3 linked regions of the Homo sapiens genome follow. The protein of the gene in region 2 purifies or fractionates together with the protein of the main gene of each other region. This does not show direct contact. Each region holds a gene or a part of one and is shown on either strand. Other genes may lie near its edges.

Evidence for each region.
Region 1: the proteins of U2SURP (region 2) and SF3B1 purify together in Homo sapiens (affinity purification with mass spectrometry; 4 studies listed by BioGRID and IntAct, with this or other methods). This does not show direct contact.
Region 3: the proteins of U2SURP (region 2) and U2AF2 purify together in Homo sapiens (affinity purification with mass spectrometry; 4 studies listed by BioGRID and IntAct, with this or other methods). This does not show direct contact.

The regions. Positions count from the first base shown.
Region 1 is NC_000002.12:197,390,007-197,393,658, forward strand, and holds part of SF3B1 (splicing factor 3B subunit 1), read right to left. Parts: intron 3,183-3,652; coding exon 2,966-3,182; intron 2,456-2,965; coding exon 2,297-2,455; 3' UTR 1-2,296. UniProt on the Homo sapiens protein: Component of the 17S U2 SnRNP complex of the spliceosome, a large ribonucleoprotein complex that removes introns from transcribed pre-mRNAs.
Region 2 is NC_000003.12:143,018,546-143,022,197, reverse strand, and holds part of U2SURP (U2 snRNP-associated SURP motif-containing protein), read right to left. Parts: intron 2,230-3,652; coding exon 2,162-2,229; intron 1,600-2,161; coding exon 1,505-1,599; intron 849-1,504; coding exon 813-848; intron 726-812; coding exon 643-725; intron 1-642.
Region 3 is NC_000019.10:55,665,035-55,668,686, forward strand, and holds part of U2AF2 (splicing factor U2AF 65 kDa subunit), read left to right. Parts: intron 1-3,472; coding exon 3,473-3,552; intron 3,553-3,635; coding exon 3,636-3,652. UniProt on the Homo sapiens protein: Plays a role in pre-mRNA splicing and 3'-end processing. By recruiting PRPF19 and the PRP19C/Prp19 complex/NTC/Nineteen complex to the RNA polymerase II C-terminal domain (CTD), and thereby pre-mRNA, may couple transcription to splicing.

The sequences.
Region 1 (3,652 bases), on a different chromosome or scaffold from region 2:
AAAAGAAAAGGTCTTTGAGAAGATAGGTAAAACTTCACATAGCGTCTTCCACATATCACAAAATGCTTTCCTTATTTAATAATAAGCACATAAAATAATCCAAATATCTGTGAGCCTCTATTTGGTCCCAATGTTTTAGGTCATAGCTTTCACTACTTCCCTCCTCTCTATCCTCAAATTATTTGCATCAGTAAAAAAAGTTAATTAAGGTGTAACAGTCTCCTTTGCTCCACAATGCCACTACAAAGCCTATTTTCCATAAAGAACCAGAGGCCAAGCAAACGTAGGCTACTAAGTACTTGAATTGAAAATACAACTAAAATTTCCTGAGTCATTTAACATCAAATTTTGGCTTTGTAATCTATTTGTATTCAATTCTCAGTCATTACTGAAGGTCATTTGACATCAACCATAGAGAGCAGTGAGATTTAAAGTTGCATGGAAGTACCGCTGAAAACTTCTAACAACAGAAAGATGAGTTTGGAGTGTTTAATTTTACTACATAGTGACATATATTCAGAAAGTTGTCATACAAGGAATGATGAGGAGTTACAAATCCAACTTGGAAACCCTTAATGCTCACTATCAATTTGTTGAAAGTCAATTTTTTTTTTTTTTTTGAGACGGAGTCTCTGTCGCCCAGGCTGGAGTGTAGCAGCGCTATCTCGGCTCACTGCAAGCTCCGCCTCCCGGGTTCAAGCCATTCTCCTGCCTCAGCCTCCCTAGTAGCTGGGACTACAGGCGCCCGCCACCACGCCTGGCTAATTTTTGTATTTTTAGTAGACGGGACTTCACCGCGTTAGCCAGGATGGTCTCGATCTCCTGACCTCGTGATCCGCCCGCCTCAGCCTCCCAAAGTGCTGGGATTACAGGCATGAGCCACCACACCCGGCCACAAGCTGTTTCTTAACTAAGCTTCTGAAGCAGGAACTCCTAAAGTGTCAATAGGCAGTTTTACTTACAGTAGTAGTTATATACTAATGCTGCTTGCAGAATTTTTTTTCCCTTTAGAGTTCACAGAAGTACTACCACATGGAGACAAAACAAAACAGTAAAAATAGTATAGGTAGTAAAAAGGCCAAAACTAAGAAATTTGGGGCCATAACATTAGAAAAGTTTGAAAATATACTTTACATATTTGCTTAAAAAATTAAGTGTAGTACTGCCTTAATGCTTGGTTCCTCTACCATTAAATGGCATTTCATTCAGTTTATGCTGAACTCTTAGATCAACTTATTATTACTGAATACAAAGCTAAGCAAACCTAGACATTTTAGCTGCTGCCACTGTGTATTATCACAGTACATAAGGAATCTGTCACAAGGTTTGTCTCCCCTTCTCCATTATACTGTTCTTAAAGGTAGAGGGCAGGTCTCATGCACCTTTGCATCCCCTGCATATAAGCACAGTGGCTGGCATACAGTGGGTGAATAGGTATTTACTGATGCATTGCTGAGTAGTGGCTTATAACATGGAGAAAAGCCCAACATTGTCCTGTTCTATCAGCATTACTTAGGTATCCTCACTCCTAATAGGCAGAAAGCAGTTTTGAAGTAAAGTTAAATTCCTCACTTGCTAAACACAGCAGACCTGTCAAGTGTTGGACAAGACTTAAACCACTTTCTTTAAATGTGTTCATAAAGCATTTTGAGAAATCAAGAGATGAAAGGCGCTATGTAAGTACAAAATATTCAAGACAGTTTAGCAAAAGTGCTACTTTTCTACGATGATGGAATGGTTGTGCTAGTTTGAGGGGAACATCCCCTGAGGCTACTCTTCTTGCTGTCATTATTAACACAACAATGGAATTTTGACAAAGATGCCATCACTTTATATAGTTTTTATTCAGCTAACTACTTTCTATAAACCATGTGACAGAAAATGAAATTAAGCCACTTATTCCACATAAACCAATACTTTATCAAAGTTCCGCATTTTACAAGTCATGTTCAAAAAACACACACAAATTAGCATTTTGTACACAAATGTTTATTTCTCAATTAAACATTCCCTTTAAACACAAGGAATGAGTTCTAAATCTTCATAAAGATGAATTAAAAATGAAATCCCTCCAGTATAGTGTATATAATCACTGTGTTCTTGGTCACTACTGGCATTTACTGTTTAACATCAAAAACAAAGACAGGTTATTTAAAAATCATGCTACTGGATTTCTAGCTCTTCCTCTATGACCAGTTCTACACTGATCTGCAATGTTTAAAAGTTTACATCACCAAATCAAAGCAAGTTTAAGGTGTGAAGTAGCTGTGCATTAAACACAAAATAAACAATAAAATTATAAGATATAGTCAAGTTCATAACGAATATAGGTGTTCTTATCATCGTTGTAGATTCTTGGGTAATGTGCTATGAGAGCGTCCTGGGAACCAATGTAGATGGAGTTGTAAATTTTCCAATATACATCTCTGACTTTCCGGGCTGGGTGAAACAGACCCTAAAATAATTGAACGGTTACATTATTTCAATTTTTAAGAACATACATAACCTTAACAAAATTAAGAAAACATAAAGATATGATTCAAAATTATTTCCCTTGGGGAGTTGGGGGGGGGGGAACCTACTAATTACACTGCTCTTAAGCTGCAATGGAAGAGACAAAACTCACTCCCCTGTCACCACACAATTGTTCTACCATATGGCACAATATACCCTAATGATAATCAGGAAAAGTAACTTAATTCAATACACTACTTTTCTTGCTAAGTAATCTTTTAAAAATCTTTAACTTACAGGCAGTGGGGGGAAAGGGGAGGGAGAGCATTAGGACAAATACCTAATGCATGCAGGGCTTAAAACCTAGATGACAGGTTGATAGGTGCAGCAAACCACCATGGCACATATATACCTATGTAACAAACCTGCACGTTCAGCACAAGTATCCCAGAACTTAAAGTATTATTTAAAAAAAAAAAATCACCGATTAAAAAAAAAATCTTTAACTTACCTGTAAACAATATTGCAACATTCTACATGGTCCAATAGCAACTCTCAGGCCCTCTAGGGCTCCCATAACTGCCTGAATTACATGAGGAGATGTCTCAAATACATTGGGCCATACATAGTTCAACAAGTGATTCAGCGAATCTTCACAACCAAATCCATAAACCCCAAGTGACATGTGCTGTACCACTGCACTAGCCGTCTGTCTGTGTACAAGGTCTCTACAACGGAAGGGAAAAAAGTCCTTTAAGATGCGGTCTTATAAGAAAGGGGGAAAAATCCTTAAAGATACAGTCTTAGTTTTACAGGAAATATTCACCGGCCCATTAGAAACTAAATTACTAATTCAGTGCACTGAATAGATGTGAAGTCATCTAACATTTCATATATCTAATATATCCTTTAGAATAGCTTCCACTTGAGGACTTTTGCTTTAATTACTCAAGATTCACTATGGCTCAACAATTAAGCCATATTTTCTAATTAACTTTTTTTTTTTTTTTGAGACGGAGTCTTACTCTGTCACCCAGACTGGAGTGCAGTGGTGTGATCTTGGCTCACTGCAACCTCTGCCTCCCAGGTTCAAGCAATTCGCCTGCCTCAGCCTCCTGAGTAGCTGGAATTACAGGTGTGTGCCACCACGCCTGCCTAATTTTTGTATTTTTAGTAGAGACAGGGTTTCACCATGTTG
Region 2 (3,652 bases):
ATGTTTTATAGTGATGGTTTGTTTAGGCATTTAGTAACATTTTTCAAGCAGGCATGGTTAGTACATTTAAATTAAAGAGGAAATATGTATTGACAATGAAGAAAAAAAGTATCTAATCATCTGTTCTAACAATCAACTACCCATGTAATCAAATGCAGAGAAAACAGGTAACAGTATATATGCAAAATATAATTTTTAATAATAGCATATTATATACTACCGTTACTACATTCCCCATATCATAATTAACAGCACCAATGCAGGAAAAGAATTAAAATATAAAAGACAAACCACAAAGAGTAGTTTACTACTATGAGAAGAAAAAGGGACTCCACAAGGAAACAAGTATGCATCAGAAGTGGACAGTCTCAAAATAATATTATTCATCAATGGTCACACCCTGATTTAATAATAAAATCAGCACCTAGTAAAACATTTCAAATCCAGAGTTCAATCTAGTTACTGAAAGAGGAAACAAGAATATGTGGCAAGACAACCTGGGCCATACCAGTAAGACAACTCTAAAGACTATCCAATTCCATCAGATTTGTCAGCTTCAGAATCTTGATTTTTTTTGACTAACAAAGCTTTCTTCCAAAAGCATAAAGCATATCAATCAACATTCATCTTACTTAATATTACCTGTGGATTAATGTTTCCAAGGTATAAATTAGTAGTGCTTGGATCTCCTACATCATGTGAGCCAGGTGCGTAATCATCAAGAACTAGGGCAGAAAGAAAAAAAGAATTATAACCTGCAAAACATAAAGTTTGGAAAATTTATCGATTAAAAGAGCAAAAAACTGTATTACCACCAGATGATCTATTTCTTCTTGAAGGCGCGTCCACTTAAAGGGGAGAAAAGAAGACAATTATTAGTTTTTATAATACAGTAGTCCCCCCTTACCCTCACCTTTGTTTCCCCCAGTTTGTTACAGTAAGGTATTTCTGAGAGACAAAAAGAGAGACCACTTCACACAACTCTGTTGTTGTTGTTGTTGTTTTTTGAGACAGACTCTTGCTCTGTCGCCCAGGCTGGAGTGCAATGGCACGTTCTCGGCTCACTGCAACCTCTGCCTCTCAGGTTCAAGCAATCCTTCTGCCTCAGCCTCCTGAGTAGCTGGGATTACAGGCACGCACCACCACGCCCGGCTAATTTTGTATTTTTAGTACAGACAGGGTTTCATCATGTTGGCCAGGCTGGTCTCGAACTCCTGACCTTAGGTAATCCACTTGCCTCGGCCTCCCAAAGTGTTGGGATTGCACATAACTTTTATTTCAGTATATTGTTATAATTGTTCTATTACTTATTGTTGTTAATCTCTTACTGTGCCTAATTTACAAATTAATTTTTACCACAGCTATGAATGTGTAAGGAAAAGGATAGTATATATCCATGGTTTCAGACATCCACTGGTGATCCTTGGAATGTAACCCGCCACGGATAAGGTGGGAACTACTGTAATTAATCACAAGCATACACATTAAAATAAATGCCACTTACTAGAACGACGCTGACCATCAGAATCTGACTGAGGAGGTTCAAATCGACTTAATCTGCCTTTTGTTTTATGTCTCTCATCACGTTCCTCTTGAATTCTGTTGAAAATATTTACAATCACTTATAATGAGCCAAAATTTGTTCATTCACATTTCAGAATAGCGCTTATCAAATTACTATCATCAAATAACTAGAAATATCTGTAATTAAATACTGGTACTGATAACCAAGATTAGAGGGTCCCTCAGCTATAATACAACCACGAGCAAATTTCTGATATATCATACTACCAATGGAACACAAAGCCTACTTTAAAGGTGAGGAGGAAATTAAACACTAAAACCACTGAATTTGTTTCTTGCTAAGTCTAACTGCCCCTCACTCCCATCCCAGTGAGTATACTGTTTCCACTGCAAACAGGACTCTGGACATTAAGTAAATCAATTGAACTGAATCCTCGTAATGCAAGCAACCCAGGTGCTGGACTAAATGCTAATTTATTTTCAAAGATAGCCCACCAAATATTATAATATCTAAAACAATCTCATAGCAAACTGGTTAGTAATAACTAACTGGTACAGTATATTCTTTATACTTGCATCTGTTTATGTATCAGCTCAATACACCTATGATAGTTATTCTCCACACTATAAAACTTACTGCTTTAATTCTTCTTTGAAGAGTTCCAAATTGCTTTTTTTCTTTTCTTTCTCTCCTTTTTTAAGTGGCTATAAAGGATATGACAAGTTATACTTCAAACAAAAGGATAAGCAAAACCAATGATTCAATAATAAGAGCCTTTTTACATCATTTCAGTACAAATTGTATGTTCTAATTATTTAAATTAAAAAGGAAGAATGCTTTTCTTATCATTGAACCTCCCTTCCCCTTCCTTCAAAATAACAAACAATTAAATTATTACTACAATTAAACAATTAAAATGACAACCAGTAGTCAGGGAAATTAATGAACATGAAGTAACTGAACTGCCATGGAAAGTAACTGCCAAAAATACGCACTCTTCAAAAATCACCTCTGGAGGACATGAGTTACTGGAACAGTAAGTAACATCTTTGGAATCCTCTTTTAAAACTGCTTCTTAATCTACTTTTGGAATCCTTCTTTTAGAAGTGCCAACATAATTTAATAGGGAAGAATAATCTTTTCAACAAATGGTGCTTGGACAACTGAATATCTACATACAGAAAAATGAAGTTGGACTTCTACTTTACACCATATACTAAATGTACAAAAATTAACTCAAAATGGTTCATGGACATAAAAGTAAGAGCTAAAACTATAACACTTTTGGGAGAAAACCACAGGAATGAATATTCATAATCTTGAATTAGGTGATGGTTTCTTAGATATGACACCAAAAGCGTAAACAAAAGAAAAAAACTGATAAATTGGACTCCATTAAAGTTTAAAACCTCCATGCTTCCATCAAGAAAATGCAAAGACAACCCAGAGAACAGAAAACATTTCCAAATCATATAGCTGATAAGAACCTTGACTCAAGAAGATGTAAAATACTCTTACGATTCAACAACAAAAATACAAATAACCCAATTAAAAAGTGGGCCAAGTATCTGAACAGACATTTCTCCAAAAGAAACTTATAAATGGACAATAAACACATGAAAAGATGCTCAATATAATCAAGTACATGCAAATCAAAACCACAATGAAGTACAACTTCACACACACTAAAATGACTAAAATAAACTTTTCAAACAAAATAGTTTTGTTTGTTTGTTTGTTTGTTTTTGAGATGGAGTTTCGCTCTTGTTGCCCAGGCTGGAGTGCAATGCTGTGATCTTGGCTCACCACAACCTCTGCCTCCCGAGTTCAAGCGATTCTCCTGCCTCAGCCTCCCGAGTAGCTGGGATTACAGGCATGCACCACCATGCCCGGCTAATTTTGTATTTTTAGTAGAGACGGGGTTTCTCCATGTTGGTCAGGCTGGTCTCAAAGTGTTAGTGTACGACGTGAGAAAACTGGAACCCTCATACATTACTGGTGGAACTGTAAAGTGATACAACCACTTTGGAAAAACTGGCAGTTTCTCAAAAGGCTAAACATAGTTACCATGTGACCCAGCAATTCCACTTCTCGGTGTGTGTATATACATGTATCCAAGAGAACTGA
Region 3 (3,652 bases), on a different chromosome or scaffold from region 2:
GGGTTTTGGTAAATTCAGCTAACCTTTTGGAGCCTGTAATATATGTTGACATGCTCCCAATCGACATGGACTTTTTACGTATGGGTGCGTTTCCCCGATCAAGCTGCAGAATGTCTTCCCCACGTCTCTTCCTGGTGAATCCACTGCGTTTTCATTCATTTTAAGTCCCATGAGTGGCCCGCCACTTGCTGGTGCTTAGTGTGTGTCAGGCGCTGTCCTAAGTGCCCTCCATGCACGGCAGTTCTACGACACAGGGATTGGCGCTGTCCTAAGTGCCCTCCATGGACGGCAGTTCTACGACACAGGGATTGGCGCTGTCCTAAGTGCCCTCCATGCACGGCAGTTCTACGACACAGGGATTGGCGCTGTCCTAAGTGCCCTCCATGGACGGCAGTTCTACGACACAGGGATTGGCGCTGTCCTAAGTGCCCTCCATGGACGGCAGTTCTACGACACAGGGATTGGCGCTGTCCTAAGTGCCCTCCATGGACGGCAGTTCTACGACACAGGGATTGGCGCTGTCCTAAGTGCCCTCCATGCACGGCAGTTCTACGACACAGGGATTGGCAGGTTACAACTGAGAGTCCAACGCTGGCCCACTGCCTGTTTTTTGTTTTTTTGTTGTGTTTTTTGAGACGGAGTCTTGCTGTGTTGCCCAGGCTGGAGTGCAGTGGTGTGATCTCGGCTCACTGCAACCTCCGCCTCCCAGGTTCAAGCGATTCTCCTGCCTCAGCCTCCCGAGTAGCTGGGATTACAGGCATGTGCCACCACACCTGCTAATTTTTTGTGTTTTTAGTAGAGATGGGGTTTCACCATGTTGGCCAGGCTGGTCTCAAACTCCTGACTTTGTGACCTGCCTTGGCCTCCCAAAGTGTTGGGATTATAGGCGTGAGCCACTGCTCCCGGCCACTGCCTGTTTTTGTAAGTAAAGATGGATGGCGGTGCAGCTGGCCTCACTGTGCAGCGCCTCCTTCCTGGGTAGGGACGTGTGGTGGGCCTTGGGGAATAGGAACCGTGGGTTATGGATCTAAGGTTGCTTCTCTTACCAGGCTGAGGAGCTTGACTCTTCTGAAGGTGATGGGGTGCTCTGGCAGGGGCTGAGCTGAGGGCAACCCAGTGATAGTGGCTGCCGAGCTCCTCTCAGGCGCCCCCTGCACCAAGATGGCCTGGTCACCATGGGAGGGGACATTGCTCCATCTTACAGATGAGGAAAGAGCTTCGGGACAATGGGGATCCCTGCTGGGTCTTCCCCACACAGCCTCTGCTCCAGGTGTGATGCTTTGTAGATGCAGCCGCTGCAGAGGTATGGGGCCCTGTTTCCCCGCCCAACTCTTGGAACATCCCTGCCAAGCAGGGCTTGTCCTCAGTGATGAGTGGAGGAACTCAAGACTCCGAGAAGATTCCTTTGAAGTTGTTGTCATGTAACAGCGGCTGACCCCACTGACAGTGCTCACAGTGTGTGTCTGGGCTGGGTGGGTCCTGTTGTGGGCATTGAGTCTGGCAGATGCCCGGGCCATGGGGACTGCCGTGCCTGTTCTCACGTCCTCGATTGAATCAGCACTTGGCCTGAGCTGTTCTCACACACGTGGCTCACACGATGGGCACCAGGGTTCTTCCCATTCTACAGATGAAGACACTGAGGCCCTTGGAGGCTCATATGGTACAAACAAGACTTGAACCCAAGGAGCCATGAACCCAGGGAGCCCAACTCTTGTATCCTTGGCTCTGTGTTGCTCAAGTGAGACGGGCAGAGCCAGGGCTCGCGGCTGAGCTTCCAGTGTGACCCATTCTTCCTTGGACCCAGGCAGAGCCTGCAGCCTGCCATGCTGCCTGTGGGGAGTCACAGCTGAGTGTGGGCTCTGGAGGCTGCCTTTTTCCTGCCTGTGTGTCTTTGCTCTGTGCCTCAGTTTTTGCCTTCTGTGCTGTATGTATAGCATTGCAGTAGGAGGTTGAAAGTCTTACAGGATGCCTGGCCCATGGGGTGAGTGCCCGGTGTGTGTTCCTGCTCCCGGGCTGCTGCTACTTGTCCCTGTAGCATAGGAGCTGGGTCTCCTGGGGTCTGTGTGGCCCCAGTCTGGTGGTTGGAGCTGGCTGGGTTGGTGCTTCCAGTTCTGTGGGGGCAGCGTCATCATGGGCTGGAAGGGCTTGAGTGAGTAGGTGGGAGAGGGTGTGTGGGGGCATCTCCCCTCCTTCCATGGGCACAGCGGCTCATGCTTCTGAGGCTCTTTCCCATTTCCTGTCTTACCTATTCCTTCCCAGCATCAGGATGGAGGTGGGATGGGGCCACTCACACTTGGTGTGGAGGCTGCAGAGGAAGGGGAGGCCATATGGCCTAGGTTTTGAACTTGGGAGTCAGGCTGGTTGGTTACCGGGGCCTGGCATAGCTGATATCTGACAGGACGGCGTCAAGTTACATTGGCAGAGCCTGTGGGGTCTCAGGTTGAATCATCCCACCAGCAGGCACTTGTCTGTGAGTCCAGAGTTCAGTGGATAGGGCAGGATCGAGGGCCAGTAAATTCAGCTGATAAGCCCCCACTCTGGTATGTCAGCCCTCGAAGACACTGGATCCTGCATCCCACAGTCAGCCCACAGTTCCCAGTGAGATCAGAGCAGCTAATGCTGCGGATGCTGTTCTGAGACTTCCCGGGCAGCCGCGGCTGCTCATCGTGTCGTGCCACCCCTGTGAGGGCAGTTGCACCCCTGCAGTGGCACCTGCAGTTCTGACAGGGCGTGAAGGGAAGGGACTGAGCTTTTTTTTTTTTTTCCTTTGAGATGGAGTCTCACTCTGTTGCTCAGGCTGGAGTGCAGTGGAGTGATCTCGGCTCACTGCAACCTCCGCCTCCTGGGTTCACGCCATTCTTCTGCCTCAGCCTCCTGAGTAGCTGGGACTACAGGTGCACGCTACCACAGCCCGCTAATTTTTGTGTTTTTAGAGAGACGGGGTTTCACCATGTTGGACAGGATGGTCTTATCTCTTGACCTTGTGATCTGCCCGCCTTGGCCTCCCAAAGTGCTGAGATTACAGGCGTGAGCCCCCGCGCCCGGCCGGGACTGAGCTTTAATGGGAGCCTTGCCTGGGTGGCTGTCAGAGAAGGGGTGGGGTGTGTTGTGACTCACCAGTAGGTCCCGAGCCCAGGTGACCTGCCAGCATTCCACAGCAGCAGGTAGCAGATGTGGGTGTGAACTTTGTGCCTTTGGAGCGTTCTGGAGGATGTTCTAGTTTGAGGTTCCCCTGAGGCTGGGCAGATTTGGGAGACATGGTGCGTTCTCCCCGAGGAGCCTCTGTGTGCCACTGCCCAGGACCCTCACTGGTCAGATAAGGCTGGGGTGGGGTGGGCACGTGGCGACCCCTCCCTCGTCAGATCAGGCAGGAAGTGTTCTCTTTGGCAATTGAGGAGCTCGCCGTAGACTGTCCAGGTTTTGGGAGATAACCTGGTACTGGAATTGAAGTCCTCCTCTTCTCTACCCATAGGGGTTGTGTCCACTGTGGTCCCCGACTCTGCCCACAAGCTGTTCATCGGGGGCTTACCCAACTACCTGAACGATGACCAGGTAACTTCCCTGCCTCCCTCCAGACCCGTCCCCCCACCCCGCCCCACCTCATCCCAGCCCTGATGGACTCTCGGCTACTGCAGGTCAAAGAGCTGCTGAC